Linked DNA regions of Homo sapiens. The protein of the gene in region 1 purifies or fractionates together with the protein of each later gene. This does not show direct contact. Each region holds a gene or a part of one and is shown in the gene's direction. Other genes may lie near its edges.

What was found.
Region 2: the proteins of CDH2 (region 1) and JUP purify together in Homo sapiens (co-immunoprecipitation; 4 studies listed by BioGRID and IntAct, with this or other methods). This does not show direct contact.
Region 3: the proteins of CDH2 (region 1) and CTNND1 purify together in Homo sapiens (affinity purification with western blotting; 6 studies listed by BioGRID and IntAct, with this or other methods). This does not show direct contact.
Region 4: the proteins of CDH2 (region 1) and CTNNA1 purify together in Homo sapiens (affinity purification with mass spectrometry; 4 studies listed by BioGRID and IntAct, with this or other methods). This does not show direct contact.

What each region holds. Positions count from the first base shown.
Region 1 is NC_000018.10:28,174,107-28,181,571, reverse strand, and holds the start of CDH2 (cadherin-2 isoform 1 preproprotein), read left to right. Parts: upstream 1-4,441; 5' UTR 4,442-4,549; coding exon 4,550-4,609; intron 4,610-7,465. UniProt on the Homo sapiens protein: Calcium-dependent cell adhesion protein; preferentially mediates homotypic cell-cell adhesion by dimerization with a CDH2 chain from another cell. Cadherins may thus contribute to the sorting of heterogeneous cell types.
Region 2 is NC_000017.11:41,769,705-41,776,736, reverse strand, and holds part of JUP (junction plakoglobin), read left to right. Parts: intron 1-3,810; exon of another isoform or gene 3,811-4,147; coding exon of another isoform or gene 4,148-4,190; intron 4,191-4,480; exon of another isoform or gene 4,481-4,544; intron 4,545-4,874; coding exon of another isoform or gene 4,875-4,882; coding exon 4,883-5,090; intron 5,091-7,032. UniProt on the Homo sapiens protein: Common junctional plaque protein. The membrane-associated plaques are architectural elements in an important strategic position to influence the arrangement and function of both the cytoskeleton and the cells within the tissue.
Region 3 is NC_000011.10:57,757,963-57,764,807, forward strand, and holds the start of CTNND1 (catenin delta-1), read left to right. Parts: upstream 1-3,839; 5' UTR 3,840-4,157; intron 4,158-6,845. UniProt on the Homo sapiens protein: Key regulator of cell-cell adhesion that associates with and regulates the cell adhesion properties of both C-, E- and N-cadherins, being critical for their surface stability.
Region 4 is NC_000005.10:138,931,401-138,935,542, forward strand, and holds the end of CTNNA1 (catenin alpha-1), read left to right. Parts: intron 1-1,177; coding exon 1,178-1,312; intron 1,313-1,487; coding exon of another isoform or gene 1,488-1,558; intron 1,559-2,401; coding exon 2,402-2,689; 3' UTR 2,690-3,634; downstream 3,635-4,142. UniProt on the Homo sapiens protein: Associates with the cytoplasmic domain of a variety of cadherins. The association of catenins to cadherins produces a complex which is linked to the actin filament network, and which seems to be of primary importance for cadherins cell-adhesion properties.

The sequences.
Region 1 (7,465 bases):
AGGTTTTTCTTCTAATATTGGATCAGATCACTACTTCTCTGAGCACCAGATGAATGGCTATCTTGTGTTTAGCAGCCAGGTTGTATCAAATATATGGATCTTTAAATGCCAAAATCATAATAAATAACACAAGATAATCACACTAAGAAAAGCATATGAAAACTGAGAGCAGTGAAGAGTTATGTCCTCAATTTCACACATACTTTGAAGAACAAAAAACTTGAGAAAAATAGTAGACTAATCCCTAGCATCATTATATTTTCTTCTTTAAAAAGAAAAATCTCCCTTTCATCCCATATAGTTGAATTTTTCAATGTTAAAGGAACTTCCCAGAATAAGATAGAGAGCATAGGTAAGAGTGGGAGTAAGGGGACCTGGGTCCCATTCTGCATTCCCTACTTTCCAGCTGGTGGCCTTGTGTACCTTTTTAAGTCTCAGGGTGTCCCATCTGTAAAATGAAGGGGTTGCAGAGACCATCTTTAATGTTTCATTTAGAACATTCTATGACTCTATGAAAGGGATATTACCCAGGGAAAGTCAGCTTTAATGTACACTAAAGCTAATTATGGAGAAAATGTAATTTGAGGGGTACTTTCTAAGGGAGAGGGACAATCCTAGTTTGCTCTGAAGATGGGGAGAGGAGGAAGAGTGGAGAAGGGGGTCTTCATTCAACATTGGGAAGGACACTGCGCTAGGTGTCAGAGACAAAGACAAGTGTAGGGCCTGTCTTTGCGGTGTGTATCTATAGGGGGTAGGGAAGGGGAGGTGGGGGAGAGGAGGCTCTAGATTAGACTACTACTGCTGAGCATTTATGTCCAAAGCAAGAACCCTTGTACACAAACACCCACATGGTGAATTTGTACATTTAGCATCTCCTGCCTGACAAAACACACCAGAACAAAAATTATTACGATTTTCGAAATGAATGCTTAGAAACAAATCATGATCTCTACACACATATAAAAACTACACATATATAAAAATGAATGCTTAGAAATGAATCATCGTGACCTCTACATATATATAAAAACGGGCCATGTGTTCAGAGCACATCATTTAATCAGGTTTCCATAACGGTTTGCAGACCTCTTATAGTCAACAGGCATCACTCCATAGGTCAGAAATGAAGGATTAGGTTGATTTTTGATGTGTGAATGCAGTCATGTTTTATATTATTCTATATTTTTTTCTTGTCTCCATCCATCCAACCCCTAATAACACCTGGTTGTTTCTCTGGGTCACTGACAATCCCCTACATCCCTGGAGTTCTACAGGCTGATGGAAAACCAGTCTTCAGACAAGTAATGCTTTGAGCAGGGGCTAAAAATCTGCGAGTTTGGTCATCAGTTGCCCAGGACAGTGAATGGCCCCGTTAGCTAATCTTAGGTATGGTATTACTGAGGTAAAGCTGTGTTTGGATATCATAGTCAACACCAGATCTACTTTCATTAACATCAAATGGATGCACAAAGTCTCCAACAGCATGATTTTAGACTAGACTATTCCTTCTTGTAATCAGAGGCCTATTATTTATTATTAGCAAGATTTGGCTGACCAGGTGATCAACTTAAAGTGAGGCAAGATGCTAAAACAATTCACAACCACTGAAGAGTGAGAGGCATGCAAATTGGACTTTTAAAACATGCTGCAAGTGCTTACTTAAAGGATCAAAAACTGTTGGAATCAGAGAATTCCTTGACTGACAGCCATTCCAAAGGAGATTTTGAAATCATAAGTGCTTAATTTATAAAGGACATGTTTAAAGCTTCAAGTAAATACTACTAACAAGAAATAGAGTTATTCATGTTGAAATTTGTTCCACCTTTAAATTAATCAGAATGGCAATAAACATCAATGGGTACTGCTAGGAGTGATGAGGATACAGTCGAAACCCCACGACGAGGGTCGAAGCTTAAATCTTAGCCATGGAGATGAGATCTCTACATCTCACTCTGGAATACAACAAACATATCCCCATATCTCAACTGAATTTTTACTATTATTTTGCATGACTCCCAGAAAGCATAATTTATAAATACTCTATTGCAAAGATAACTTTTAGGCGGACTAGCAATAGTGTGACAATAATATCTAGCAAAAAAAGAAGAGAAAGGGTAAGAACAAGCACTTCTGATTACTATATTAAGTGTTTCATCTCATCTTTTAAATTTAATTAACATAACCTTTCTTATTCTTTTGAAAAGAAAGAAAATCCAGGAAAAATTTTGTTTCATAAAAAACTTACAATATTATGTTTTAATTAAAATTGAATAAGCCTCCCTATGAATATTAAATTTTTAAAAGCCTAGCCAGCAACAGTACATTATTAAAAGCTGTATCAGTTATGTCAAGAAATTAGTAGCTGGTTTTTAAAGGTTCATCATCAGATTCTTAAATGATCGGTATCTTGAAACTCAAATAAAGTTAATATTTCAGTCACCCAAAGCAGAAAAGCAAGCAATAAAGGCAGAAAATATTCATTAACTGCAATGAAGTTCACCGATCTCCCAAGTGTTGAAAAGCTTACATAAAACGGATATTTCTATTTACTTGTAAACCTTTCTTAAAAAAGGTTCCGGAAAATTTATTACCTCACCAGAATTAGAAAAAACAAAAACTGCTCCCCATCCCCCGCTCCATTCCACAAATGCTTGTGACTCAAACTTGTAAAGTCTCTCACTGTGTTGCACTTGAAGTTCATGCCTTAAAGGAAGCCAGCAGAAATCCTTTACGTGGTGAGAATTCTGTATCAGTCATTTTATCTTTTATATAATCCTATTTTCTCAAGTTCCGGCTTTTAGTTTCTCTCTTTTTTAAAAATTGTTGTTAGGGGTGGTAGGAGAGGGTAAAAGTACCCTGAAACTGTTGGCCCCAAATGTGAACAGTACCACTAACAGGTAGTAATAGAAATAGAAAACGGGAGATTTCAAATAAAATAACAAACATGCACTCTCAAACTCCCAGAGGGGACAAAAGAAAACAAAACAAGAACACAAAAACTTGGGCTGTTCCAGTACATCCTCAAGGGTGGGAGCTGAAGGTGCGAGCTCCAGAGAGGAGCCGCGGCCTCCGCCCTCCCCCGCCCGCAGGTGGCTCCCGGCGAGCGCCTCAGACAACAATAGCTAGGATGAGCTTGGCCTGCGTCCTTAGTTTGCTGTGTCTGCCCCTGCCAGGAAAGATTACCCATCTCCAAAGAATGACAAAATAAAGAAGCGTACGTTAGGCTCCCAAGGAGACACCGCCCCCCCTTCCCCACCATTCTTCATCTCCATTAGATTCCCTACCGCGGACCAAAGATGAACCTGCTACCAATCAAGTTCCTGCCCAAGTTATTTTATTTCCCGCAGCCCCTCCACCTGCCGGGGCGGTGCTCGGCGCACTCTAGGCTTCCCTCCGGCGACCCCCCGCGGGCTGCAGCAAAATACGGGGCGCTTCGGCGGGGCGGGGGCGGGCGGCTGCCGCGGATCCGGCCGGCTACAGCCGCAGCTTGGTGGCCTCCGATTGGCCACGACGCGGGCGGGGAGGCTCGGCGGAGGAGGGAGGCGGGGGCGAGGGCGGCGGCGGCGGCGGGAGGAATAGGAGAGGGGAGCGGGCCGCGCAGCCAGGCAGCGCGTGGGGCGAGCGCGGGGAGAGCGGCGGCGGCTCGCCCAGGTCGCGCAGCGGAGGCCGAGCGGGGTGCGCGGTCGGCGACGGAGGGCGGCGCGCGCGAGTGAGCGGCGCAGGGCGAGGACCGGCGGGCGGGTGCCGGTGCGCGGGCAGCAGGGGCGGCTGCGGCAGCAGCTGCGCGGGACGGAGCCGCGGCGGGAGAGACCGCGCCGGCCCCTCGCCTCACCCCCTTGCGGCCGAGGCCGGAGAACAGTCTCCAACTCGCCGGGGGACCGGAAAGAGGAGCCGAGAAGCGCCCCTCGGCCCCCACGCAGCGGAGGCGCGGAGTGGCGGGACTGCTGCTCTTTGTGGGTGCAGCACGCACGACCCGGAGCGCCCTCCCCGCGGCGCTGTCCCCGGCGTCTTCGTCGCGCCGAGCGGCCCTGGAGCGGGGACCCGGAGGAAGCAAAACCACGAGCCCGAAACCTCGCGTGGCGGAGCTCTTGGGGAGCGCCATCCGCTCCACTTCCACCTCCACATCCTCCACCGGCCAAGGTCCCCGCCGCTGCATCCCTCGCGGCTTCCGCTGCGCTCCGGGCCGGAGCCGAGCCGCCTGCGCTGCCACAGCAGCCGCCTCCACACACTCGCAGACGCTCACACGCTCTCCCTCCCTGTTCCCCCGCCCCCTCCCCAGCTCCTTGATCTCTGGGTCTGTTTTATTACTCCTGGTGCGAGTCCCGCGGACTCCGCGGCCCGCTATTTGTCATCAGCTCGCTCTCCATTGGCGGGGAGCGGAGAGCAGCGAAGAAGGGGGTGGGGAGGGGAGGGGAAGGGAAGGGGGTGGAAACTGCCTGGAGCCGTTTCTCCGCGCCGCTGTTGGTGCTGCCGCTGCCTCCTCCTCCTCCGCCGCCGCCGCCGCCGCCGCCGCCTCCTCCGGCTCTTCGCTCGGCCCCTCTCCGCCTCCATGTGCCGGATAGCGGGAGCGCTGCGGACCCTGCTGCCGCTGCTGGCGGCCCTGCTTCAGGTACGCGGCGGTCCCCGCGGGCCGGGCCACGGGCGGGGTGGGGCGGGCGGCGCCGGGTCCCTTTGTTCCCCGCGCCGCTGCGGGGCCGGGCTGCGCACCCGGGAAGGGAGGTGCCACGCCGCGCCGCGCCGCGCCGCGCGGCCGGTAGCTGCGCAGGCATCGGGCTCCGTCCGGGCGCCGGGGCAGGGTTGCCGGGGCCAGTAGGTCTCTCGCGCCTTTCCTGGCGGGGCTCTAGGGGCTGGATTGCGGGTCCCCTCTGCTCCTTCTTCGGGGCCGAGCAAGCTCGCGGGGGGTGTCCCCAGGCAGCAGGAGGGTGAGGCAGGATAACTCCCAGGTTTTGCAGTTTTCTGTGCCTTTCGCCCCTCGCATAGTACTTTGCTCCAATTTTTTTGTTTATTTCTGCAGGGATGGGTCGCGAGTTTACAGTAGGAATTCTCACTCTGGTGTCTTAGTTACGGGACTTGCCTCCACCTTACCCCACCCTGCACCCGTGCGCCTCCCGGTGCTCAAGGGCTCTACTGTCCTATTGTCTTTATCCCAGTCTGGAGTTGCCTCCTTTTCTTCTTCTCTTGCCCTCACAATATTCTGTGTTCGTCCCACCTGGAAAGAAAATCTGGCCCTCTTGCCCGGAGGAGTCTCTGCCGGTCAGCGCCTGCCTGTAGAACGAGTCTGGCCTCTCACGCCTAGTATCTCCCCCGGGCGAGAAGTTCCGTTACGCGGCTGCTCCTTTCTCTGTCCGGCTGCCTGTGCCCTATATGCGCCCCGGGGGCGCCTTTGCCTGGAGCCTTCCGTACTTTTCATACCCTCGGGAGAGAGCCAGCGAGCCTTTTCATTTAATCTCTACTAAGAGGCTCCTCCGCGGCAGGAAGCACCTGCTCCAGTCCGGGCGCAGGTTCCCTCGCCACTGCACGCTGCGGGTTCCCAGCCCGGGGGCAGCCCAACTTTCCGCCGCCTCCAACCCGAGGATGCCCCCAGGCTCCTCCCGACCAGCCAGCCCAGGCCTGGAGGCCACTTCACACAGCCTCGGCCGGGACCCTCTAGCTGGGCGGGTGCAGTGCCCTGGTCCCAAGTCGGTCTCCGCCTGCCGTGGGGTCCCTCGAAGGTTGCGGGAAAGGGGCGTGCCCACCCTCGCCGCGGGGCAGGAAAATCCACGGAGGGTCCCCCTGCCTGTCGCCCTCGGGGCAAGGGGAGAGGTGCTCTACTGCCAGCTGGCAGCCCCGAAAAGTGCGGACGCAGCTCGGAAGTGCCTGCTCCGGGGGTGGAGACAGGTGGTGTGGATTACCCCGCTCCGTGGTCTTCACGGGTCAGGGCCTGGCGCGCTCCGGCCCGCCGGGGGGTGAGTGCTGCTGGGGCGGGGGCAGGGGCTGGACGGGGCTGGCCTCCGCAGTCTCTCGCGCTTTCTCCCGCAACCCCTAGACGGTCGTGGGCCGCCGCCGCGCGGAGCCCTGTCCATGGTGCGCCATGGTGCGGCACGCCTGTCCCTGCCCGGCTCCACGCTCTCCTCCCGGGTCGTGCTCTCTCACTTTGTCTCTCCCCACCCCTGCCTCCCAGGCCAGGGTCCCAGCGTTCCTTTTCCCTTTCTTGGATTTCTTCTTTTGTTCTTTAGTCTCCTACCGGTCTTTCTCCCTTCCCCCACTCGCCATCCGCCACTCGGCTCTCTCCTGACTCGGGGATTTCAGAACTATTAGACTAGACATTTTTGGCCTTTGCAGTTTTGGAGAGTGGATGGAATTCCTTCTAACTTGGGGGAGGAGACCTGCCAGTCACTTGCTAACAAAAGTACCTCCTGTTATAAAACCGCCCTTTATTCTCCCAGCGCACACTCCTCATTCTTTGACCTCCTGTCACTTCATTTATTGTTTCTTCTTTAAAAATGGGGTTTATTAAAGAGGTTAGGCTGAAGGAGGAAGAAGGAAAAAAGTCCTGCTTCTAAAGTATTTGAAGTTAAATGGAAGGCAAGACAAACTTAAAGACTCCTGTGTATTAGGATTTTTTTTTAACAAAGGAGATGTGATACATTTTTTACAAATCTTACTTTAAAAACACTAATTTTTGGACAGCATTGGGTCGTCTTATTTACAGACAGTAAATCCTCAGTGTGAATCCAGCAGCAGATGGTTATTTTCACAAACTTTTTCATCTAAAAGTGAGTTTTAATTGAATACTGTGCAGCGAAGTTAGGACACGAAGAGACATTTGTTGGTCATGAATACTGTGGGAAATCTATGTGTGTTACAAGTGGAGCACTCTCATTTTCTGTTTTAGTCATCTGCCTTGAAGTCAGGTGTGAATTTTCTGTCAGTTTTTTCTTAAGTGTTTCTAAAAATATCGTTTATAAGCATTAAATAATGTGCTTTTCCATTGTATGTTCTTTCTCAGTTTCTTCTATACCAATGTTGACTTTTTTAAACCTTCAGGAAAGGAGAAATTATAACTTTCTCATCAAGTTATTTGGCAGTCCTCTAATTCATGAGTACAAGTCAAGCAGTAACATTGAATGATTTGAAAGGTCATTAGGAGTGGAAGCAGAGCAGTTTACGCAACATGAGTTTTAGGGTTAAGTGCACCATGTGGATTGTACAACTGAGATTAGAAATGACTTTGTGCTAATGGTCTGCTTTACACGCCCGAACAACAAAGCTCTATCTGCAAGGTGAAAGTGGCTGTCCTGCAGTCAGCTGCTATTAACAGTCTAGGTTTTTTTTTTCTTTTTTTTTTAAATTCCAGACTAAGCAGCCGATAGTTTTAGAAAAGAGAATATGTAGGTTATTAGTGCAGATACGGAGCACCCTTGTTTTTTTACAAGCTAAATATAATTGAATATTCAAAGGACTCTGTGCCTTGAATTGTTAACTG
Region 2 (7,032 bases), on another chromosome or scaffold:
CCGCGCCTGGCCCCCTCACCTTTTTGTTTTGAGACACGGTCTCGCTCTGTTGCCTAGGCTGGAGTGGCATGATCCTGGCTCACTGCAGCCTCAATCACCTGGGCTCAAGTGATGCTTCAGCTTCCAGAGTAGCTGGGACTGCAGGTGCATGCCACCATGCCCGGCTAATTTCTTTTTATTTTTTGTAGAGACAGGGTCTTACTATGTTGCCCAGGCTGGTTTCGAACTCCTGGGCTCAAACGACCCTCCCACCTCCGCCTTCCAAAATGCTGGGATTATAGGCACGAGCCACTGCGCCAGCTGGCTTCCGCCTCCTCTGCCATCTCTTTGTTCTTCTAGCATGAGAATGCATGCCTTTCCTGTGGACAGAGGGCTTCCAGAGTCACAGTGACAAAAGAAGTCACTTGATCATCTCCATTTTACAGATGAGAAAATGAGGCTTAAGGAAATTGAGCCCCTCTCCTCACTCAGAATCCTGTGCTCACCCTGTCGCTGTCTGAGCCTGGGGACCTGTGTCTGCACAGGGTGCTGGCCTCTAGCCTAAGGAACCTCTGGGGGACCCAGCCCTGCCCTGCTCCGCCCTGCTCCTCTGTTCCCAAATGCAATGCTTCTGAGTCTGCTTCCAGCACGGCCTCTGGGGTAACCCACTCCTGTCCTTATTTCCAGGTGTCTTGGCACTTGGTGCCCTGCAACCCAGCCTAGATGTGCCCATTGCTGACTGTCCTTGGCAGGTGCCGGCTGGGGAAGGAGCCTGGTGTAGCTCTGGTGGGGCTATTTTTAATGTCAGGGCTGGGCCACACTCTGCCAGGTCAGTCTTGGATTTAGGGTGCCCGGTGCCAGCCCTCTGGGTTGGCTGCGCAGAGGAGGAGGCAGGAAAGAAGGGTAGGGGTGCACCCAGTCTAGCCTTATTACTTGCTCACACTTACCTGGTGTGGGTCCCATGGGGAAGGGTCCTCTGCACCCCCTCTCCAGGGCCCGTCTTCCTTCTTCCTGTCCTTGGGCTGTCCCTACAGTCTCTGATCTGGCTTCTTCCTCCCGTGCTGCTAACAATAGAGCACGCTCTAAACAAAGGCCCCCCATTCAACTCAGAAACCCGCCCTGTCTCTGTCCCTGCCCGTCTCTGGCTGGGATGAGTGGGCAGGGCCTGCGTCTGTCTCTCTCGCTTCCACCCTGGCTCTGTCCAGGGGCATTGCAGGAGGTCTGACTCCAGGTCCAGGGTGGAGAGGGACAAGACTGAACTGGGTGTGGCCCCCTCCACCCTGGGAACTGTAAAACCAGCACTTTTGTTTCTTGTGAGAGAAGTTCCTTTGTTCTCCTGGGCAGTAGGTAAGGAGAAGGGTGGGGCTGGTTGACAGTCCTGCCTGAGGTCTGACTTCCAGCCTTCCTGTTGCAGGAATAGCTCCCGTGACCCCTTCCTCAGGAGGAGTTCTGGAGTGTGTCCTCTCTCTGAACTGGTTCCCAACTCTGACGTTGCCCACCCCCAGCCTTCTTCTGTCTGTTGTGGGAATCCTGTTTTTTTATTTCTAGAATCTTAGACATCAACATTCCTTTGAGATCCAGGGACACAAGGACACCCAGCAAGTTTGTGGCAGAGCTGGGACTAGAACCTGGGACTCTTTTTTTTTTTTTTTGAGACAGGGTCTTGCTCTGTTGTCAGCCAGGCTGAAGTGCAGTGGCGCAGTCTCGGCTCACTGCAACATGCACCTCCCTGGTTTAAGCAATTCTCCCGCCCCAGCCTCCCGAGTAGCTGGGATTACAGGTGCACACCACCATGCCTGGCTAATTTTTGTACTTTTTTAGTAGAGACAGGATTTCACCATGTTGACCAGGATGGTCTTGAACTCCTGACCTCGTGATCTGCCCGCCTTGGCCTCCCAAAGTGCTGGGATTACAGGTGTGAGCCACCGCACCCGAACCTGGGACACTTGATTTGCAGCCGAGTGCTCTGCTTCCATCTGCAAGCACCTTGGTCCCCTCCTCCCCTTGGCAAGAGGGCTCAGCTCCACCCAGGCTTGTCTAGTGGACTGGATGCTGTTCCTACCACAAGTGCTGCCATTTTCTCAGTGTGCAGGCACAGCTTCTTCACCTAGAAATTGGGAATAAAGCCAGGCACAGTGGCCCAAGCCTATAATCCCAGCACTTTGGGAGGCTGAGGTGGGCGGATCACCTGAGGTCAGGAGTTCAAGACCAGCCTGGCCAACATGGGGAAACCCGGTCTTTACTAAAAATACAAAAATTAGCCAGGCGTGGTGGTGCACACCTGTAGTCCCAGCTACTTCAGAGGTTGAGGCAGGAGAATCACTGGAACCCAGGAGGTGGAGGTTGCAGTGAGCCAAGATCATGCCACTGCACTCCAACTTGGGCGACAGAGAGAGATTCTGTCTCAAAAAAAAGAAAGAAAGAAAGAAATTGGAAATTATAAAACATCTGCCAGGGTTGCTTTGAGGGAAGAATGAGATTCACATAATAATAAAGGCCACTGGGCGTCCACCCCCCCACCCCCCCATGGCATCCTGTGGCTTCTGTCTCTCCCTGGGTAGCTGTCTAGCCCTCAGCAGTCTCCTGGCGGTTGACCTGGGCTGGTGGGGGTGGTGAGGGGCCTGCTGAGGAAGTTCCTCAGCTTGACTGTGGTGGTCCCTTTAGATGTGAGGCCGGCAAGGGGTGACCCTTGTTTGGAGTGAGGCCCGCTTCCCTCTCCCTTAGCTGAGAAGCCCCAGGGTTAGGCACTGTCTATGCAGGAGGGCCCTCTGGCTGGGATGCAGTGTGTTTGTTGACCAGAGCTGCAGATGTCCAGCAGTGTCCAGATGTCGTTCAGCCTTGAGCCCAGCAGAGCGGCATTCAGTGGGTTATTGCTACCGTGTTTACTTGTACACTTGCACCTTCCTTCTCTCCTGGGGGCAGCTTCTCTTCCAAACTCTCCTCTGCTCTCTCTTGGGACTTGCCCTTGGGGCAGGGAAATGGTTGGGGAAGGCGGCACAGCACGAGGAGCTCAGGATTTTAGTAGGGTTTTCCCATGTCTGCCTTCTCCGAGCACCCCGCCCCCCGCCCCCCACCATTGCCCCTGTTTCCTGCCAGTGGCCATTCCCCTCTGTTGCTGGGGAAGGGGTGTGGGGAAGGGGTGCGTGTGGAAAGGGGGCTGGTTGGGGGGGCTCCTTCTGAAATAGCTACACTTTCGAATGCCTGGGAAGCAGCTGTGCACATCTGGCGGCCCGAGCCTGTCGTCTGGGGTCTGCCGTCTGAGGTGGCGGGACTGCTTCTGTTTAATCAGCCTGAAACTCTGAGTCACTAGGGATTGCGGGAGGAGAGGAAGGAGGCAGCTGGGAGCTGGCCTGGCCCCTGCCTCTGCCTGTTCCGGGTGTGCTCACGGCTGCCTGCCATAAAAGGCTGGGAGACCTGCAGGACCATTCGTCATCCTCCTGGAGGGCCAGGGCGGCACTGGGGCAGTCACAGGGAAGACTTATCCTTGGTGATCTTTGTTCCTGGGGTGGGGCCAGGTTGCCCCAGCCACCCCACCCTCACCTGGTCCCCATCACAGTGAGACAACCCGGGTGCTGCCTGGCTTCATGGGTGGACCAGCCTGAGTTCTGCTTACTCACTGAGGCTGCGCCGGGATGTGCAAAGACTACAGACCTTGGTGCCCTCACACCTGGTCCCAGTCCCAGCTCTGCCATTTCTAACCTCAGTTTCTGCATCTGTACGCGGGGGACCAGTGCATGGGCTTTGAAACCCGCCCATGAGCATGACGGTGTCTGTGAAAGGTCTGGCTCGTAGTAGGCCCTCATGGGATCACGGCGTCCATTCTCCCCGCAGCCTCTGACCTCTGCAGGTCAGTTCCCAGGACAGTGGAGCCAAACACAGACCAAGCGGGAAGTTCACCTCCCTGGTACAAAGTTCGGCCCTGCTACTCATTAACCTTCAGGTGCGCCTAAACCTTTGCAGAGAGAGAGAGGGGTTCCTGACGGCAGTGACCACCCACAGGCCTGCCCCACCCCAGATCCCTAGCCTGGGCTCGAGGAGACCAGGAGGTGAGGAAGCACTTCTGGAGGAGAGGCAGTGCTGATGATAATGGCCGTGGCCTCTGAGCACCTGCTATGCACCAGGTCCTCGCAACCACCTCTGAGGGAGGTGGCGTGACCCCGCTTTACAGATGAGGACACTGAGGTTCTGTGGGGAGAGGAACTGCCCCAGTAGTGAGTAGCTGAGATTTGAATTGCTCTGTGGGACTCAAAGAGGCGTCTAGGGACTGGGAGGGCTGGGAGAGAGGGGGCCTTAGGGTCTGGACCTCAGGGCCATGTGTGATCCTGCCCAACCTGTAGGAAAGCCAGATCCTGGAGTCTCTGAGGGAGCCTGGGGCGCTCCAGAGAAACCTGTCAGACCGCTTCCCTGCCCCGCCCAGTTTCCTGCCCAATGGCTTGGGTGCCTCCTCCCTGCAGCCTTTCCCAGGGAGCCCCAGTAGTTGAGGGTGGGCCCAGGGGACCTCAGAAGCTGCTAGAAGCCCTGAGTGCCTTCTCTTGCCCCTGGGAGAGTTGGGTCAGGGCAGCAAGGTGCGTGAGCAGGGGCTTCTGGCGGCAGCTGGCCCTTGACTGTCCTGCCCCCTGGGGCTCATCCCCCTGGGAGGTCAGAGATGCAAGCCCAGGACATACACACAGCCGCACCCCTGGGGCTCACTGCTCCCAGGGTATCTCGTCGTGGGCAGCCCCTCCCTGGGCCTGGTGCCCTTCTGGGCAGTCCCCCCATCCCCAGCCTGCATCCTCATTGAAATCCCTGGGCCATGGTGATGATGTGGGAAGACAGGCGGGGCTTGGTGACGGGCTGAAGCTGGGGGCTGGGCCAGGTGACTTCCTGCTTCCTGACTTCCTCCTTTGTGCCCCCAGTAGCCACGATGGAGGTGATGAACCTGATGGAGCAGCCTATCAAGGTGACTGAGTGGCAGCAGACATACACCTACGACTCGGGTATCCACTCGGGCGCCAACACCTGCGTGCCCTCCGTCAGCAGCAAGGGCATCATGGAGGAGGATGAGGCCTGCGGGCGCCAGTACACGCTCAAGAAAACCACCACTTACACCCAGGGGGTGCCCCCCAGCCAAGGTCAGGACCCCTGGGGACTATTGCATGGGGCAGAAAACCTGCCTGGGTCCTGGAGAGAGGTCAGAGTGAAAGGAGGCAGATTGTAGGGGGTCTCTGGTCTGAGGGAGGAGGCACAGCTCATGCTAACTAGGGGCCCACCCAGTCTGAAGGAGGAGGTGCAGCTACTTCAGGGTGCTGCATCTGGGAGGGTCACAGAATCCTCTTCTGTGAACCATCAGTAGGGAGGGAAGGCATAGTCCCTGCCCTTAGGGTGCCTCCAGTCTGAAGGAAAAGCCATAGTCCTTGCCTTCTGTGAACATAAGAATCTGATGAAGACATTGGGTACGGTGGCTCATGCCTGTAATCCCAGCACTTTGGGAGGCTGAGGTGGGCAGATCACCTGAGGTCAGGAGTTTGAGACCAGCCTGGCCAACATGATGAAACCCCGTCTCTACTAAAAATACAAAAATTAGCCGGGTGTGGTGGCGCATGCACCTGTAGTCCCAGCTACTTGGGAGGCTGAGGCAGGAGAATTGCTTGAACCCAGGAGGCAGAGGTTGGAGTGAGCTGAGATTGCGCCACTGCACTCCAGCCTGGGCGACAGAGTGAGACTCCGTCTCAAAAAATAGTAAAAAAAAGAGTCTGATGAGGATGTATCACTATGGCTCTCAGGGAGCCCATGGATGGCAGGGAGGACGCAGCCCTTTGGCTGCAGGAGCCTCACGTTTGTGGGAGAGCCAGGGCCGTAGCCCCCAGGAACCCCCAGGGATTCCCCTTTGGGTAGAGGGGTGTAGGTGTCAAGCCTGAGGGCCCCTCGTTGGGGTTGGAGGGAGACCAGGCCTCTGCGGCTGACCTGCAGATAGGCCAAGGCTGTGGGATGAGTGACTGACTCAGCTCTGGGGCTTAGTCCGGGATGGGGATGCCCCGCCAGCCCAAGCCTCCCCTGCCCCTCTGGGAGAGAGGAATAGCCAGGCCCTAGAACTGTTGGCCACAGGTGCCTCCAGGGCCCTGAACATGCCAGGGGGTGGGCTGTGGGTGCTGGGAGTAGTGTGAGTAGACTGTGGCTGGTGGGGCTCTATGGAGCTCAGCCCTCGCATGCCAGTCTCCTCCCTGACAGCTGGTAGGGGTAGCAGGGGGCCTTTTGGCTGGCAGGGCCAGGCACTGTGTTGGTAGCAAAAAGTACAGCATCCAGGTGGGAAAGCCATGCAGCTGTCTCCTCCTTCTCGACTAATTAGAGGGTGGAACCTCTGCGTCCCTCTCCCTGGGGGCATCAGGACAGTTGCCAGGGTGTGGCTGCTTGGGCACCTACCTGTGGGACTCCCAGACCCACCCAGGGGATGGAAGCTAGAGAGGAACCTGACGTCTCAGCTGAGGACCCAGCTCCTGCTCTCTGAACCCACAGCCCTGACTTTCCCTCTGATCTGCTGTGAGATGTGATGTTGGTGGTTCTCTGGGCCTCTGTTTGCCTGCCTGTATAGTGGGAGGATTGCTACCGTTGGGGATGATGAGGGTGTAATTAGACTCCTGAGATTTCAGGGTTGAAAACAGACCTGATGGGTAAGGGAGGAGAATAGAGTAGGGGTTTGGGCCCCTGAGTCAGGCTGCCTTATAACCCCTCTGTGCCCAGTTTTCCCATCTGTAAAGTGGAGCCAGTGATAGTACTTACCTTGCAGGGTCGTTGTCAGGTTATGTGAGAAAATATAAGCAGGGCATTGAATTCACTGCCAGGCACATAATAAGTGTGCAAAAAAAAAAAAAAATTCCCTTGATGGACAGAACATGTGGGGCCTATTTTACAGAGATTACTGAGGTGATGGTGACTTCCCCAAGGTTCCTGGTGAGAGGTAGAATGGCCAGTCATGTGCTGGGGGTTTGGGCAGGGCAAGAGGTAGCCCAGAGGACCCAGGTGGGGCTGTCTGTGGCCTGCCCTGCTCCCCAGTGTCTGCCCAGCCCACTGCCTGCA
Region 3 (6,845 bases), on another chromosome or scaffold:
ACCCTGTCACCCAGGCTGGAGTGCAATGGCACAATCTCAGCCCACTGCAACCTCTGCCTCCTGGGTTCAAGCGATTCTCCTGCCTCAGGCTCCCGAGTAGCTGGGATTACAGGTGGTGTGCCACCAAGCCCGGCTAATTTTTTGTATCTTTAGTAGAGACGGGGTTTCACCATGTTGACCAGGCTGGTCTTGAACTTCTGAACTCGTGATCTGCCTGCCTTGGCCTCCCAAAGTGCTGGGATTACAGGCGTTGAGCCACTGCGCCCAGCCCATGGAGCTTATCTTCTGATGGGGGAGACAGAAGTATACATACACACAAATGAAAACAAAAGAAAAAGGAAGACAAAATACTTGCAAGTTGTGAGTAGTGATGTCTTCAACAAACAAGACCAATCTGTCTGTAGAAAATCATGTAACATTCTAGTATGTGGCTTTGATCTCGGAATCAATGAATCAACAAACATTTTTGGGCTGGTTGTTTTCCTTTGGTGATTATCTTTGGCTTTTGAACTTGCTATGGAGGACTAGGAATTGATGGGGAATAGAGGTAGAAAATGTGATAAAAGGAGAAGATTTTTAGGTAATGAGGCTTAAAGGCTGTTCATATCTTTGTTATAATGTATTCATTTTCAGCTGTAGTTTATTTAAAGCCCATCAAACAAGTGCTGTAATGCATGTTTGGTTTTTCAACACTTCTGAGGAAAGTCCTTTTTGGCCACTATAGACCAAATATAGGTCTATGAGACTATAGACCATATATATAAGGGAGTGGATAATGACTACATCAGCATGATTAAAAGCACATTCATGCTGAGTTGTTGAATTCTAGTTTATCTAGGTAAAGAAAGGTCAGATTATGGTTGATAATGTGTTACTTTAATGTACTGAATGAATAAATGTGGTGCCTTCAAAGCAGATGATAGTCCCCTACCATCCCAGTCAACATACAGTAGTCCTGTTTCTAGGATTTCTCTTGACCTTTATCTTGACCATAGTGTAACGTAATAGAAAGAGCATGGGCTGTGGAGTGAGACTGGTGAGGGTTCACTTAGCCAGATGAGATCAGGCAAATTTCTTCACCTTATTGGACCTTGATTTCCTCATCTGTAGAATGGTTGTAGTACTATTTCTGTGGTCATGTTTTAGAAGTTTGAAGTACTGAGCTCAAAATACCTCTTACATGGTAGACACTTCATCATTGGTTGCTATTATTGGGCAGTGGCTCACCACTGCAAGTTTTTGGGCAGGGTAGTTACTGAATAATAAAAATAATGATAATGCATTCTTAGTGAGTTTATACTACATGCCATACATTAAGAACTTTTGTTTTGAACCGGAGTCTCGCTCTGTTGCCCAGGCTGTAGTGCAGTGACACGAGCTCAGCTCACTGCCTCCCGGGTTCAAGCGATTTTCCCACCTCAGCATCCTGGGTAGCTGGGACTACAGGTGTGCGCCACCACGCTTGGCTAATTTTTGTATTTTTAGTAGAGACGGGATTTTGCCCTGTTGGCTAGGCTGGTCTGGAACTCCGGAGCTCAGGTGATCCGCCTGCCTCGGCCTCCTAAAGTGCCAGGATTACAGGCTTAAACTACGGTGCCTGGCCCAAAGAACTTTTTGTGTATTTTAATTCCCACAACAGTCTTGTGAGAGAGATATAGTTATCTCCATTTTATAGTTAAGGAAACTGAGGTTCAGATTATTTAATTTGGGTCAAGGTCACATAATAGTACATATATTTGAGTAAGTGTACTTACTTACAGAGGTGGAGTTTGAAGCTAGGCAGTTTGTGAAAACCTATACTCTTAAAGTTTCATATTTCTTTCTTTTTTTTTTTTGAGACGGAGTTTTGCTTTGTCACCTACACTAGAGTGCAATGGCATGATCTCGGCTCACTGCAACCTCCACTTCCTGGGTTCAAGCGATTCTCCTGCCTCAGCCTCCCGAGTAGTTGGGATTACAGGCACCCACCACCATACTCGGCTAATTTTTGTATTTTTCGTAGAGACGGGGTTTCGCCATGTTGGGTCAGGCTGGTCTCGAACTTTTGACCTCAGGTGATCCACCCACCTCGGCCTCCCAAAGCTCTGGGATTACAGGTGTGAGCCACTGTGCCCAGCCAAGGTTTCGTATTTCTATTCTAGATTTTGATAACTTGATGAAGACTCATTTGGCAGCAGTCTATAGGGTAAGTTTTAGATTAGTAAGAAAGAAGAAGGAAATCTTTGATTCATCATTGTCTTTGTTTTAGTAATCAGGGAATAACCATAAAATGCTAATCTTTGTCAAGCATGTTAAAAAAAAAATCCAGCCTCTGTCCATCATGGTCTAACAGTTTAAAAATATGTCCTAACTCAGAAAAATAATACCCCAATAATCCTTTATTTAGGTCAAATGTAAAAAGAGAATGTATAAGCTAGATCATCTTAAGCTTGAAGTTCACAAAGAAATAAAATGTTCTTTTTTTTTTTTTTGAGACAGGAGTTTCGCTCTTGTTGCCCAGGCTGTAGTGCAATGGCACAATCTCAGCTCACCGCAACCTCTGCCTCCCCGGTTCAAGCAATTCTCCTGCCTCAGCTTTCCGAGTAGCTGGGATTACAGGCATGCACCACCACGCCCAGCTAATTTTGTATTTTTAGTAGAGACAGGGTTTCTCCATGTTGATCAGGCTGGTCTCGAACTCCTGACCTCAGGTGATCCGCCCACCTTGGCCTCCCAAAGTGCTGGGATTACAGGCGTGAGCCACCGCGCCCGGCATAAAATGTTCTTGACATGAGATTTACTTTCTTTACCTATGCTGTTATTCCCTCTAAATATATTGCTTGTTTATTGGATTTCATTTCCTCTTTCCAACAAACCCACATTATTTTGATTTGGGGACAAATTGGGAAGACAGTGATTTTCTTTAACAGCCCAGTGGATTCTGCTTCCTTCTAATTCAAAGTATGGAGATTAAAACTGTTAACAAGTCTAGGCATTAAAAAAAAAAATAGCTCTAGATGGGGCGTGGTGGCTCACGCCTGTAATCCCAGCACTTTGGGAGGCCGAGGCGGGTGGATCACCTGAGGTCAGGAGTTCGAGACCAGCCTGACCAACATAGAGAAACCCCGTCTCTACTAAAAATACAAAATTAGCTGGGCATGGTGGCACATGCCTGTAATCCCAGCTACTCGGGAGGCTGAGGCAGGAGAATCGCTTGAACCTGGGAGGCGGATGTTGCGGTGAGCTGAGATCGCACCATTGTACTCCAGCCTGGGCTCGAAACTCCATCTCAAAAAAAAAAAAAAAAAATAGCTCTAATGCAATTAATCCAAAACAGTGAAACTGAGTTTACCTCAGATATCCCCTACCATCCCAGTCAACATATAGTAGTCCTGTTTTTAGGATTTCTCTCTCCTTTCTTTCCCGTCTTCCTTTAGGGAAATGCTTTGGGGTAGGAAGCAACAAACCAAACAGCAGCAGGCAAGTAAAATCAGCTCTTTTCTATTTCCCCACTGGGATAGTACAGAAGAGGGAGCAAGAACTCATCATCAAAGAGAACTGAGACTTAGGCGTACCATTCTAAAAAGCCCTTGTTCCTTGTCTCCCTTGCCTCTTCCGCCCCCCTCAGCTCTGCAGTAATTCCTCAGAGATTGTACAGTCTCTCCACTTTAAATATAAATATATAAATATAAATATATATATGTATAAACTTCCCCCTGTCTTTCTCTCCTCTCTTTTTTTTAATTTTCTATAATAAAGTTTCCTATTGGATAAGGTCAGCTCCCTGATTTATGCCTGGTTCCTATTGGAAGCTCACAGGGGCTGACATCACTTAGGAAAGCGAAGGGGGTAGGGCTGCCAGATCAGTTTGTCACCACCCAGGCTCCCTTGCCTTTGGCTGGGTGCAACTTCCATTTTAGGTGTTGGATCTGAGGGGGAAAAAAAAGAGAGAGGGAGAGAGAGAGAAAGAAGAGCAGGAAAGATCCCGAAAGGAGGAAGAGGTGGCGAAAAATCAACTGCCCTGCTGGATTTGTCTTTCTCAGCACCTTGGCGAAGCCTTGGGTTTCTTTCTTAAAGGACTGATTTTTAGAACTCCACATTTGAGGTGTGTGGCTTTTGAAGAAAATGTATGTACTGACGGGAAAAGGAGGATAAGCAAGTCGAATTTTTGTCTTACGGTAACCGGAGGGAATTAAAAAACGGGAGAGTCTGTTATGCTGATGAGTAACTTTTAAGCAATTATTTTTCTTTTCTACTTTCAGTACTTTGGCGGGGGAGATTTTGGTATTTTATTATATTTAAAAAGGTAAAATATACAAGACCTAGAAACAAACTTCTAGGTCTCTTTAATACAGGAAGCTGAATAGATCCAGAGGGGTAAGAGCAGGTTTGAAAATTTACATTTTGGTGTGTTCTTTGATTTTATTTATTTATTTTTCTGGATTAAGCTAACATATTTCTGTTTTCAGAGCCCAAATCAAAAGTTGGTTTTTTGGCATGTTGCATGTGGGTTGGGAAAGAAATTTGTCCGTGTCGGAACCCAGTTATACCGATGGTTCTTCATATGTTTAAAACTTTTTTTTTCTTTTATCATTGGATTTGTGGAAGTGGAAAGTTGCAGGGAGCTTTGCAGTGTAAATGGTATTGTTTTTCCCCCAGAGAGTTTGAACGGCCCGTATCGGTTTCAGCCCTGCTGTTCCTGGGTGGATCCCTCTTACTTTTCCAGGTGCGGTGGGTGGGAGCCTCATTCTCCTGCTAGATGTAGTCTCCCTTCTTTGGCTTATAAAAGAAAACAAATGGAACCATGTTAACTGAATTGCCATCTCCTTCTTCCTTCTAAACTACCTTTGATAGCAAAGATTTGTGGAGGTGTTTGTTAAATCTGCAAATACGATAACGTTTGGTTTATGTGTTTAAAGGGATAAGGAAATTCTAATCATGCTTTTTATTTCACCTGAGTAAAGTGGCAACATACCTGAAAATATTTTCAGCTTTTTGCACTCTGAAAGGGCCAAGGGTGGAATAAAATTAGGTTTAGAAAAACCATTTATACAAAGTTTAGTGTTTAAAATACATTTCAGAAAACAAGGGAGATTTTTATTTTTAAACCAACCTGAAAGTTGTTTTTTGGAGTTGAATTTATTGTTTAGTTAATTTACCATGAAATCTGAAATCTCTTAGAGCTGAAGGCCCATGACTGTGCTTTCATATCTTATATTTAATCTTAAGATTTGTTTTGTTTTTGCAAATACATTCTTGCAAAAGTACGGATTCTAGATAATTATATAGCCAACTCATCAGTAGCTGAAAAACTAGGGTATTCTCTTCTCTTTTTGAAAATGTGAATCCGCCTGAAAATTATAGATGCTGTCCTAATTGTAACAAGATGGGCTTTAGTGTGTAAGCTGCTCATTAGCTTTAAACTGGTATGGATCTTTAATAATCTGATTTCGTTCTCCCCTCACCCCCCTGCCACAAATTTTTTTAAGACTAGACTTCCTTGAATTTCTTTTCTAGAATGAGGGTATTTCTTGAAAGACGATTTCATCCTTGTGAAGTTGTGGCTTCAGGAGGAAACAGAACTTTGTTCCTCCTTCAAATACAACCTAGGCAAAGGCTGCAGGAAATTTTTGATGTCTGAATCTCATAATTATAACAAGTACAGTTAAAAAGAAAGAAAAAATACAATGTGTATAGGCTGTTGAACTGTAGTTCTTGTTTAATATTTTCCAAATTTTCTTTCAAATGTTCTCTCTGCCTTGACTCCAGCCTGGGGAGGTTTCTTGGATCTTTAGAGTGTTGGTCATGTTGCTTCCAGAGTGTCTGTTTCCCACTCAACCTTTAGGGGGAGGGATGAGGGAATCTGAAGGAGGAGTACAAAGGCAGTTTGAAAATAGGTTCTGGATGACTGAGTGGTGGTGATTTGGGTCTAGCTTTAAATAGTGGGCTTTGTGTAGCTGAAGTGAGCATCCTAGTTAACCTAGTGTCCAGGACTATTTCCACGAACTAAGGGTTGTTTTGACTGGTGTGTAGTACAGAGCCTTTGGGGTGATAAGATGGAAGATTTGTCTTTTACCTCACCTCCACTGGTTCTTTCAGGAATTATAAGGGATGCAGATAAGTAAATCTTTTATTTTTTAAATTTTTTGTTTTGCTCATTGTCTTGGTTTTGGGGTAAAAAATGATGATAGGTAAGTATGAGCTGTTCAGATATTTCTTTCCTTGTTTGCCTCCTATGTACGGTTGGTTTCTTTGTTATGTGAGTAAGGTAGTGGTCTGTGTTCCAGATTGCGGGGCGGGGGGGCGGTTCTCTTTTAGGTGGTTGGAGTTCTAGTACCTTTCTCAGGGTTCCAGCATGGACAGTCAGAGAAGCTCCAACATGTTCTCTGAGCTAGGGTAAAATTGAGACTATTGGTGATATTAACAAAAAGAAAAGCACTAAGTAATTACAATCCAGCCTTAGGTTTATGAAGTAGCTGCTCTCCAGGGATGAATGAGATAGGATGGATGCAAATAAATTAAGCATAGATCACTATCAATTGGAATAACAAAATGATTAGCTTTGTATAATTTATCTCCTTCTATTTTGGTACCCTGTTAGTAACTGCCAAGGCCCTCATTCCCCCCTACCTCCCCACACCTTGTTTTTAGTGTATTCTAAGCATTTTGCATAAACTATTAATTTCCCACCACTGGTTTTTTTGTTTGTTTTGTTTTTTAAGGAATTTGACCCTCAGAGAAGCTGAGGTTTGGTGAAAATCTCACTGCCTGTAAATGGTTGAGGCCAGGATTAACCCTGGTCTGACTAACTACAAAGTCCATGGACTTAACCACTAATATACTGCCATTCTCCAGAGAGAATGGAA
Region 4 (4,142 bases), on another chromosome or scaffold:
GATCAAGAGAAGCTCTTTCTCAGTTACAGTTTTTCTCTGTAGTTAACAAGCCTCCCCACCATTTTCCCTGAAATAGCCAAACTCTCAGCCTCATCTAGGCCACAGGATGTGTGAGACACAAGCCTCCTTACACAAGCCAAAGATTGTAAAGGCATCCTTGACTCCCACACAATCGGTAATAGGGCCTATTGCTTCCATTGGCCAAATGTATCTTGACACAAACCAGTCTTGTCCTTTCTGCAGATCTCCATAGCCACTTGGACTACTGTGGCCGCTCCCGATTTCCTGTTCTTTCCTCTCTCCACTTCCTTCTGCATCCAGCTGTCAATACTGTCATCTGAAAATGCAGATCACATGGCTCTGCCCTGCTTCCATGACTACTTAGAATACAGCTCATCTCCAGTATGGTCTGCGGGGTCTCAGTTCATACCACTCTCTGTGGTGTACTTTGCTCCAGCCTCACTGGAAGAAAATGTTTGCTTGCTATAAACACTTGAGAGGTGCTCTGTGTTTCTCCCTTTGGGTAAAGCTTTCTAGGCTGGTCCTAATCTGGGAGCCTCTAAAACTCTGAGATGTGGAGCGAGACAGGAACTGGGCAGGGGCCACCCTTTTCTCTTTGACCATCCCCAACTGCTTTTTTTCTTGCTTTACTTTACTCACTTGTCTTCCACCTCAGCCTGCAGTGAGTGGCTTTTGTCATCAGGCATTAATAACGCAAAGTGCCTCAGAGCAGAAGAGTTAACTATTTGTTTACTTAGCTAAAAACATCTGGACTTTTCTCCATAGCCAGGCTCCTGCTTGCTGAGCCGGCTTGTTCTCACCTCGAGGGGCATGGGCCTCCACCCTGCCGTTTGGGGTGAGGGGATCCTTGGCCAGGGTGGTTTCCCCGCCGTCATAGGAGGGAAGTCAGTGGGAGGCTCAGAAGGCCTTGGCTATACAACCAGTGCCATGCGGCGCAGTCAGGGTCCCATGGACGACTTCCATCAGCTCACCCGCCTCCATCCCCAAGCAGAGTGTAGGCAAGGGCTGTGACTGCCTCAGGTAATTGGGTGATTTTGCTCCAGCAAGAGGAGAGGAAGCATGTGAGTGCCACACTGAACCTTTCAGAAACAGCCGTGGGGTCGGGGGTGCTTGGGCCAGGCCAGGATACTTGGTGTTAAGCCTGCTCTCTCTTCAGTGCCCCGACTCGGCTTGCAAGCAGGACCTGCTGGCCTACCTGCAACGCATCGCCCTCTACTGCCACCAGCTGAACATCTGCAGCAAGGTCAAGGCCGAGGTGCAGAATCTCGGCGGGGAGCTTGTTGTCTCTGGGGTAAGCATTAGCTGAACAAAAAGAGGGCCAGTGGGAACGTGCTGACCCTTGTCAGAAATGAAAGTCACCTCCTATCCGCATAAACACCTGCCCTGGGAAAGTGTGCTGTGCAGAAACTCCAAGTCCTGTCCCAGTCTCTGGAGACCAAGGTCTGTCCATCATCTGTTCCCTGTAGAACTGTGACACCTGCGGGGCACTGCAAGGGCTGAAAGGCTGGCCTCCTCCCCTTTGCTGGCCACTCACTGGGTAGGAATTTTTAAAAATCTTCCTTGGGACCGGGCGTGGTGGCAGGTACCTGTAAGTCCCAGCTACTTGGGAGGCTGAGACACAATAATTACTTGAGCCTGGGAGATGGAGGTTGCAGTGAGCCGAGATGGCACCACTGCACTCCCGTCTGGGCAACAGAACAAGACTGTCTCAAAACAAAACGAAACAACAAAACAAAACAAAACTTCCTTTTCTTCCCCCAGAGAGGAATTAAGAGTAGACATAGATAGGGTGTTTTCTCAAAAGCCCTTCACTCCTCAGAGTGCTTGGGTAGCGTCTCTTTCTTTTTACCACATCACAGTTCTGAGGCCTTTCTCACCTAGGGCAGGGGAAAGAAGAGGTTTGCTGAGTGGATTGGGGTCCACCGAGCCTCCATGGCTTCTCTTAATCCCACTGAATTTCCTTTAAAAGAAACACTTCTTATATTGAACATATTGAGACCATTTGCTCATCTGCTTTGCCATAAACATCCCTGTCTCGATTCCTGCTTCTCCTCCCCCACGTGCTTACAGCTCTGGGATCACTTACAGTGACTTCCAGTTGGTTTGAGTGAATAAACACTTGCTGAGGGGTGGGGGTGAGCAAGGCGAGGTTGCCTCATGTCTTCTCCAAAGGGTCTGAGGGCAGGCGCTTCCAGGCTATTTAGATAAGAGCAGCCGTTGAGGGTGTTCTTCAGGAACAGGCTGCTGCCCAATCCTCTGCGACCTGCCCAGGCCCTGGTCTTGCAGAGGAGTAGGGGGCTCCCCTTCAAGCACAGCCCACCTGTGTCCACGAGGCTGGAGGTCAGGCCGGTGCTTCTTACCACCCCTGTCTGCCTCGTAGGTGGACAGCGCCATGTCCCTGATCCAGGCAGCCAAGAACTTGATGAATGCTGTGGTGCAGACAGTGAAGGCATCCTACGTCGCCTCTACCAAATACCAAAAGTCACAGGGTATGGCTTCCCTCAACCTTCCTGCTGTGTCATGGAAGATGAAGGCACCAGAGAAAAAGCCATTGGTGAAGAGAGAGAAACAGGATGAGACACAGACCAAGATTAAACGGGCATCTCAGAAGAAGCACGTGAACCCGGTGCAGGCCCTCAGCGAGTTCAAAGCTATGGACAGCATCTAAGTCTGCCCAGGCCGGCCGCCCCCACCCCTCGGGGCTCCTGAATATCAGTCACTGTTCGTCACTCAAATGAATTTGCTAAATACAACACTGATACTAGATTCCACAGGGAAATGGGCAGACTGAACCAGTCCAGGTGGTGAATTTTCCAAGAACATAGTTTAAGTTGATTAAAAATGCTTTTAGAATGCAGGAGCCTACTTCTAGCTGTATTTTTTGTATGCTTAAATAAAAATAAAAATTCATAACCAAAGAGAATCCCACATTAGCTTGTTAGTAATGCTCTGACCAAGCCGAGATGCCCATTCTCTTAGTGATGGCGGCGTTAGGGTTTGAGAGAAGGGAATTTGGCTCAACTTCAGTTGAGAGGGTGCAGTCCAGACAGCTTGACTGCTTTTAAATGACCAAAGATGACCTGTGGTAAGCAACCTGGGCATCTTAGGAAGCAGTCCCTGGAGAAGGCATGTTCCCAGAAAGGTCTCTGGAGGGACAAACTCACTCAGTAAAACATAATGTATCATGAAGAAAACTGATTCTCTATGACATGAAATGAAAATTTTAATGCATTGTTATAATTACTAATGTACGCTGCTGCAGGACATTAATAAAGTTGCTTTTTTAGGCTACAGTGTCTCGATGCCATAATCAGAACACACTTTTTTTCCTCTTTCTCCCAGCTTCAAATGCAAATTCATCATTGGGCTCACTTCTAATAACTGCAGTGTTTCCCGCCTTGGGCTTGCAGCAGAAAAACCTGACAACATAGTGTTTGCTAAGGCAGTAATTTAGACTTTACCTTATTTGTGATTACTGTAGTGATTGATTGATTGATTACTATTAACTACAAGGTATAATTTACTATCACCTTATTTAAATTTTATGAATTAATTTGAATGTTTTTTACACTAACTAACTTTTCCCAATAAAGTCCACTATGAAACCACGACATCCAAGAGCCCAAAGTCGTCTTCTCTGCCTTCAAGTCATAGATTTGCCCGCAGTATCTGTGGTGCTCTGGGCCCTCCCGGTGTCCGTCTCTTCCAGGATGGGGATGCCCGGGAGGGAAACTGTCTGTGGCTCTAGGCTGCACGGCTCGTGCCAACCCATCAGGGAGGGCCATGCCCGTTGTCCTATTGAGTGCCCCACCCTGCACCCCCACCTTGGGAATTCACATGTCCATTCCTTGAGGTTCATGTCAACCTCGGAGGCATCCCTGTCTTCATTATAGCTGACCCCTCTCCTGCGTCCTTCTGTCAGCATATCCCTTCTGCATCCTTCCCGTCACACATACATACCAAGCTATGATGATTGATTGATAGTGGCCTTCGAGATGAAAACCATCCTTAACCCCATGATCCTTCCCAGCTGGCATCCCCACCCTAAGCAAGGTTCCCTAAAGAGAAGCTTGTTGACATTTTCTCCCCTTCCTCACTTACAGTCAGCTGTCACCTTGCTC